Linked DNA regions of Homo sapiens. The protein of the gene in region 1 purifies or fractionates together with the protein of each later gene. This does not show direct contact. Each region holds a gene or a part of one and is shown on either strand. Other genes may lie near its edges. The genes, in order: CCDC150 and CFAP161.

Region 1 (3,618 bases):
ACCTTTGACAGTCTTATAATTGATATTATTTCCAATTTCATGATTGCTTACTTGATTTAGGTCCTGATAATATCAGCAGCAGCTATGATTACTTGAGTATTAATTAAGTCAGGTCTTATGCCAGCCATTTACATATGTTAAATCTGGATTACCTAATCCACCACTCAACATCTGAAATAAAAAGATGAAGATGAGCTTATTGCTTAACTATAGTAAGGAAGAGCTATGTTGGTCAGGCATAGTCTCCCTGAGAAGAACAGACTGCTGCATTCTATAACTTTTTTAATGACCAAGGAAGCTGTAAATATAATCTCTGAAATGCCTTATTTGAGAATAGAGATATTAGTCTTTAAAAGATATGCTGGTAATTACCCAACATAGAAGTGCATAAATTTACAAGACAGTAGAGGAGTCTTTACCATTTTTCACACAATTCTATTACCAGGGATTATCTACTGCATGTTAGAGTGGCACATTTCATTGAAACAAAATATATCGTTTAGTAGCAATATCATTTAGAACTTGCTAAAAGCCTTTTCATAAAATATACTTATTAGAAAAACAGACAAGAATTATGCAACACCATCTCCTATCATACAACAAATTAACACAAATTTATTGGGTGGAAAATGTGAAAAGGGACAAAAAAAGGGGTAGTTTTGTACTGATATAAGAGTTCATAAAGTGATAAACTCAGGTCCAAAATCTTCAGCCCACATCAAAGACTTCATGTTCTTATGACTCTAGAAACAGGCCAGCCCCGGCTGCTGGGCTCTTGGAATCATGGAGTGTAGCTACACATAAAGAAGCTCCCTTGTCAAGGACATCACTTCCTCTGTACCTCAGAATGATACTTCTTGGGCATGGGCCTAAGATTCTGTTTTCTCTCCCATCGATGCAGAACAGATTGGTTGGACATGACATCATGTTTTACATCTTGGTCCTGTTGGAAAGAAAACACACCTAACACTGACTGTTCAGAGCTAACTGCAGCAATCTGCACCTGTTTTGCCTCTACACATGTCATCTATTCATGAAGACAAGTGATTCTAATCTAAAAAGTTTGTGACAGGTGGAACTTTGTAAAAAAAAGAAATTAATTGGTTTCCTAGCATTAGTCTAAAGAAACTAAAGATTAAAAGAGAGAGTATCGAGATGATGAGAGAACTTCGGTAATTAGAAATCTGAGAAGCAACAAGTAGAAAATTGCTTAAGACATCCATGTCTTAATCTTACCTTTTCCTGCCACCTGTCTTCCCCAGAAGGCCTCTGCAACCGGTTTTTTGTCAGCTCAAGTTGTAGACCATCAAACCTGTGCTTAAACCAGCGATGAGCTTCTTCCAGATTAGCTGTTATCTGAACATATAAATATCACCATTAAAAGACACAAAGAAAGAGTTACAAGTTTTTTTGTGTATTAGTTGCAGAGATTTTTTACTTAGAAATTAAAAGACCCAAATTCTGACTGCTTGTTCTTCACAACCTATTTGCATAATATACTTAACATCCTATACATGCGAGTAATTTCTGAGTGAGGGGTTAAAGAATGCATGCAGACTTGCTGCTTTTCATGCATTTGTTAATGTTTCTTGGATGTGAAGTAATGTAAGAGAGGACCCAGGAGAAAATTAAGAATGAAGGTAAAAGATGGCTTTGAAAATGAAAAAAATGCACAAAAGACTCTTAAGAATGTAGTAGTTCATGGGCCAGGTGTGGTGGTTCACACCTGGAATCACAGCACTTTGGGAGGCCAAGGCTGGTGGATCACTTGAGTCCAGGAGTTTGAGACCAGCCTGGCAACACAGTGGAACCTCATCTCTACCAAAAATTAGCTGGGCATGGTGCACCACCATGCCCAGCTACTTGGCTACTTGGGAGGCTCAAGTGGGAGGATCATTTGAGCCTGGGAGGCGGAGATTGCAGTGAGCCAAGATTATGCCATGCACTCCAGCCTGGTGACAGAGTGAGACCCTGTCTTGGAAAAAAAAAAAAAAAAAGTATGATTTGAAATACCCCCCAAAAGGCTAATTTAAGTTTAGAATAGAGAAAGAAAATTCACAATTAGTTAAATAGGGTCTACTTTACTTTTTTAGTTATTGATTGATTGAACAAAGAGCATCCACTTTCAGTAGGGTCATGTCAAATAATAATGCATTAAAATCCACACACATGCTGGTCTTTCCTTATATTTAATAGGGAGATTTGGACTTCAGGTTTAATATTTTAGCATTCTGTTATATATCATCTGTCATCTGGACACAGACTCTTAATCTAAAAATCACTTCTTCTCTACAATAGAGACTACACTTAGGAAGTTACTCGTTCTTCCCTGTTGCATTCCTGACAACTACGTTAATGAAGGATTTCACATTGACTTGGGTTGCTTCAGGGTTGCTGTGTTGAAGGAAACGTCTAAGTCTTTATGTCCGTGGGTCTGGCTCACCTGTTCTGATTCCACACTGGCTTCTTTCAGCGTATTCTCTGTTGCCTCTTTACATTTCTTCAGGTGTCTGACAGTTTCTTCCAATTCCTGAAAATGTGATACAAAGATTTTTATAAACTTCCAACATACCATAAGAAACCAAATGCTTCACTGTTATAATAAATGGGCAACTAAATATGAAAATAGGATGGAGTGCCTTCTAACTTCAGGTGCTACTGACATATGAGATAAAAACTGTTATTTTCAGCTTAACCTATAGTCTGCATATCTACATATGTGGATATGATTACACATTTTGATTTTTTATTTATGGAGTCTGTTGAGGACAGTGATTAATATCTCTTTTCAGAACTGGAGAGATACTTCTCATGACAAACCCTACTGAAAGACAAGAGCTCAGTGATCTCTTGAAGTCCCTTTTCAGTGATAAGACGTTATGCTTTTTATTCATTTAGGAATACCTAAGAGTCCTGTAATAGCAACAGGTGTATCTGTGCTAGAAGAAACGAGGTGTACAAAGTTCCTGAAAGGCTATGAAATTCAGTTCAGAAGTCTTACTTAGTAACTGATACTTTGCATATGTAAGCTCTAGCTGTTCTTTAAAAATTGACATTACTTTTATTAAACTGAAAATGGAGAACATTTGCCATATTCAAACTACAGCCTTCTTCCTAGATACTATTATTCTAAGGACTTAGCTAAGATAAACAATTTGTAAATGTGTGTTGTCTTCTGTAGACTCTAGAAAGTCTAGGTGCAAAACTACTGGGCTTTGGCACATGTCATTTGCTGACCATCTTTAAGATGAATCTTAGGAAACCTTTTACCTGGCACCGATTCTCTAGCTCCTGCCTTATTTTCCGCTCTGCTTCTAGGTGCAGCTCTTGCTGTTTATTCCGCACTGAGGCATCATATTGGCTCTTAGCCAACATCTGCATCTCTTTCTGCAGGTTAGTCATTTCACACACAAATCTCTGGATACTCAAAGACTGGAAGGATACAAAGACAGAGACATTTGGTGAACACCCTCCAAGTTTGAGATTTTGCATGAAAGGTAAACACAGAGTATATGGAAATCATCTACCTGTTCATAGTTCTTTTTCTGATATTGATCCTTAATTAGCTCCATTTGCTTCAATTCTTTTTCTATTTGCTAAAAGTAATTGGAAAATAAC
Region 2 (3,924 bases), on another chromosome or scaffold:
ATTCACAAGCATCACTTTGTCACCGTAATGAATATAGCCATCTTCAGTTACGGAAAGTTGCATCTACAATTTTGATAGTAGTTTATTACATAAACCATGCAATTCCTCAACAGTTACTGCCAAGGCAATTTTCTTCCTTCTCGGACTAGTACCCATTTCATTCAGGATTTCACTTGGATTCCCTCGAACCCTTAGTTCCTTCTTCCTTTCCCTTCCCCTTTGCCAAGGCAAAGCTCCCAATAATTCCAAATGAAGTCGAATAAAGCTGGTTAAAATCACATGGATTTACTCATTATCCTAGAAATTCAACATTCATTGAAAAATTTGTCGATTACCAACTAAGGGGCATTTTACTTATTTACATATTAACTCATTTATTTCTTTATTTGTAAAATGCAGGTAAACATGATTTAGGGCAGACTGTTTATGTTTCTAAAATCTTAGAAGAATTTAAAACATTGCAAATTGTTTTTAAAAACTGTTATTTTCCAAATGGTAACTCAGTTATGAAATTTTTTTCTTGCTTAACATATACTCACACCAAGTTCAACAGAATTTTGAAAACAATGTCTGAATTTAAAGTTACCGGTCTCAATAAACATACGTGTGCATGTGTCTTTATAGCAGCATGTTTTATAATCCTTTGGGTATATACCCAGTAATGGGATGTCTGGGTCAAATGGTATTTCTAGTTCTAGATCCCTGAGGAATTGCCACACTGACTTCCACAATGGTTGAACTAGTTTACAGTCCCACCAACTGCGGCACTATTCACAATAGCAAAGACTTGGAACCAACCTAAATGTCCAACAACGATAGACTGGATTAAGAAAATGTGGCACATATACACCATGGAATACTATGCAGCCATAAAAAATGATGAGTTCATGTCCTTTGTAGGGACATGGATGAAGCTGGAAACCATCATTCTGAGCAAACTATCGCAGGGACAGAAAACCAAACACCGCATATTCTCACTCATAGGTGGGAATTGAACAATGGAGAACACATGGACACAGGAAGGGGAACATCGCACACTGGGGCCTGTTGTGGGGTGGGGGGAGGGGAGAGGGATAGCATTAGGAGATATACCTAATGTTAAATGACGAGTTAATGGGTGCAGCACACCAACATAGCATATGTATACATATGTAACAAACCTGCACGTTGTGCACATGTACCCTAAAACTTAAAGTGTAATAAAAAAAAAAAAAGTTACCGGTCTCAAGAGATTCTGTTTTAGTCTTCTACTTCTCTGTATGAGAAGTTTCCCCTTGTCTCTCTTCTCTAAGAAGTCTTTCATGAGCTCCTAAACAGAAAATCAACAAAAGTAGCCCTGAATAATATAGATGTTAGTATTAATAACTTTTAGGTCAGAAGCTCTTCCAAGTTGAAAAAGCAAAATTTGAGTACAAAAAAAGAGATGTGAGCATAATTGGAATGATGGAACGTTTTTAGCACTACTTTAATATTTTTACTACATTATAGAATGTTTAGAAAAATGAGAAAGGCAAAACAAAGAAAAAGAAACATCACCAGTAATTACTCCAGCCAGATACCATCCTAAATGACATTTGGAGGCCATGTCTCCCCTGCTGGGGTTTCCCTTGACCGTATGATGACTGACACTAGAAAGTTCACCCCTCCCCAATCTGACCCGTATACGAATGGCTCAAAGCCTTGTTAAGACCACCCTTGGGAGAATACGAGGCAGTGAGTGAGTACAACGTCAATAAAAGGAATACTCAGGGTCATTTAAGAGGGCAAGCGTGGCAGGGTTGGAGTGGGGAGGGATATTATTTCTACCTAGAACCTGTGTCCTCACCTGGCCCGCAGCCTGAGACTGTAAGACTCTAAGGAATACGGGGGACTTAGTGGGGCTCTAGACTAAGCGGGAGACACAGGCCAGGGGCTTGAGAGTCAAGGCATCTGACTTTGGGAGGCCAAGGGACCCAGAGAAAGAAAAGTCAGGGTGCTCGGAGTAGAGGTCAGTGAGACCTGGGTTTGCAGTTCGGCAGGTGAGATTCCTTGGGAGTTTAGAGAAGTGGGGGATTTTAGAGGTATTCGCTGTATGCTGGGAGAGAGAGGAGGCTTGAGGCGCTCAAAGTAGGAGACTGAACTTAGAGCAGGGTCTGGGAGTTCCTGAGCTGCGGGTCTGCGCCTGGCCACACCCTGCGTACCTCCTCCAGGTAGACATCCTCATTCCAGTTGCCTATCCGGACTCCCGGACCATACACGTTCTGCGCCATCGCTCCCTGCTGTTCAGCAAGTGGGCCTCCCTCCGACACCATGCGTTAGCGTGGCGCGTCGCCATGACGACCCGGCCCCAGGCGATTGGTCAAGGTCTGGGACCCTGCTGGCCAATAAGCGACAGCGCGCACCCTCGCCCTGGGGCGGGAGATGGGGCGTCTGGGTCAGCGGCTGTCTGTGGCCCTCCAGCCCGCCCCACTTCCACCTCTTAGATTTCCTTAACTGCAGGGTGGGCGAGAGGGAAAACCCTGGCTGACAAAGTGCTTCCGAGAGAGAAATTTAAAGCTTTCTTTCTATTAGAATCTAACCGAAAAGTGCTATCGAGTACCCCTTGCTTGTCGAGGCAACAAAGAGGAGCTTTTAAATGGAAGCACGGCTTGCTTGCAGCCTATTTTTTGTAATCAGCAGCAGCAGCAGCAGCAGCAGCAGCAGCAATTTCGCCCTAATCATAAAACAATACCTGCTCAATGTACACATTTGGAAACCAAAATCGCATAGAAAGAAGAAAGGAAAATTAATAATTTCAGGGCCTTAAAAGTAAGAAATATACCATGTTAGTATATTTCTGTTTATAGGTTTCTGAGGTTGTCCATATTTTTGCGGACTTGACAGCATCCTCCCTCCCTCCCTCCCTTGCTCCCTCCTTCCCTGGGTCTCAAAGTTAAAGGACGAACCTGTGATTTGCAGGAACTCTTAAGAAAACCAGACTCTGCTGTAGCCAGCATTAATAAAACAAAATATTATTTTCTGGGGAGGGGAGGGATACCAGTTACTGTAGGACTACCGGAGGCTTGATGCAGATTGAATGCATTCAGTAATTTACCTCTATTTAGTGTCTAGTAAGACATGACTGAAATGGAAGACAGGAGCCTCCGCTCCCTTCAGCAAACCCAGTCTAAAAGAAAAGATAGTTCATGAAAACGAATTACTTAAGGAAGACTGTGGAAAAATGCAATTAAAGATGTGCTGATGGGCTGGCGTGGTGGCTCAAGCCTATAATCCAGCACTTTGGGAAGCCGAGGCAGGAGGATCACTTGAGCCCAGGAGTTCTAGACCAGCCTGGGCAACATAGTGAGACCCCATCTCCAATTTAAAAAAAAATACATATATATATATATATATATATATATATATATATATATATATATATATGCTGATGAAGGGCCATGGAGTTGAAGGATCCTTTCTGTCTTGAGGAACTGTGAGAATGGGAATTGGATGGCCTTTGAGTGATGGGAGAGGGGCTGCTTTGGAGCTGAACTGGGAAGGATTTGAACTGGCAGGCTGAAGTGTAGAATAAAAATAGGAACATTCCCACATTCTGATGAATCCACCAGCTCTGTCAATATATCACCACATTCGAGGATACTTCTGAAGGACACATAGGACAAAGCAGTTAGATCAGATAGTATACCACTAACTGCATTTGATAAATTCAGAAACTGAGACTCAAAGAAGCTAGCAGTCTAAATTCAAACTGCTAAAAGTTGCTCAAAGAAAGGACTCAGTCCAAACTTTCCGACTCCAAAGTCATGTTTGTTTGTTTTTCCTTTTAAGTATTTTTCATATTCCTCATAAAATCAAGAATAAAACAAAGCAGCTCTAGTCTCTACATTTTTAACAAGGTTCTAATGATTGGGTCATTCAGTAAGTCCTTACACTGATACAGCTTTG

Evidence for each region.
Region 2: the proteins of CCDC150 (region 1) and CFAP161 purify together in Homo sapiens (affinity purification with mass spectrometry, with the first as the bait; one large-scale study listed by BioGRID). This does not show direct contact.

What each region holds. Positions count from the first base shown.
Region 1 is NC_000002.12:196,729,771-196,733,388, reverse strand, and holds the end of CCDC150 (coiled-coil domain-containing protein 150), read right to left. Parts: intron 3,597-3,618; coding exon 3,528-3,596; intron 3,433-3,527; coding exon 3,271-3,432; intron 2,531-3,270; coding exon 2,444-2,530; intron 1,357-2,443; coding exon 1,237-1,356; intron 944-1,236; coding exon 827-943; 3' UTR 588-826; downstream 1-587.
Region 2 is NC_000015.10:81,132,655-81,136,578, reverse strand, and holds the start of CFAP161 (cilia- and flagella-associated protein 161), read right to left. Parts: upstream 2,310-3,924; 5' UTR 2,250-2,309; coding exon 2,181-2,249; intron 1,310-2,180; coding exon 1,220-1,309; intron 64-1,219; coding exon 1-63. UniProt on the Homo sapiens protein: Microtubule inner protein (MIP) part of the dynein-decorated doublet microtubules (DMTs) in cilia axoneme, which is required for motile cilia beating.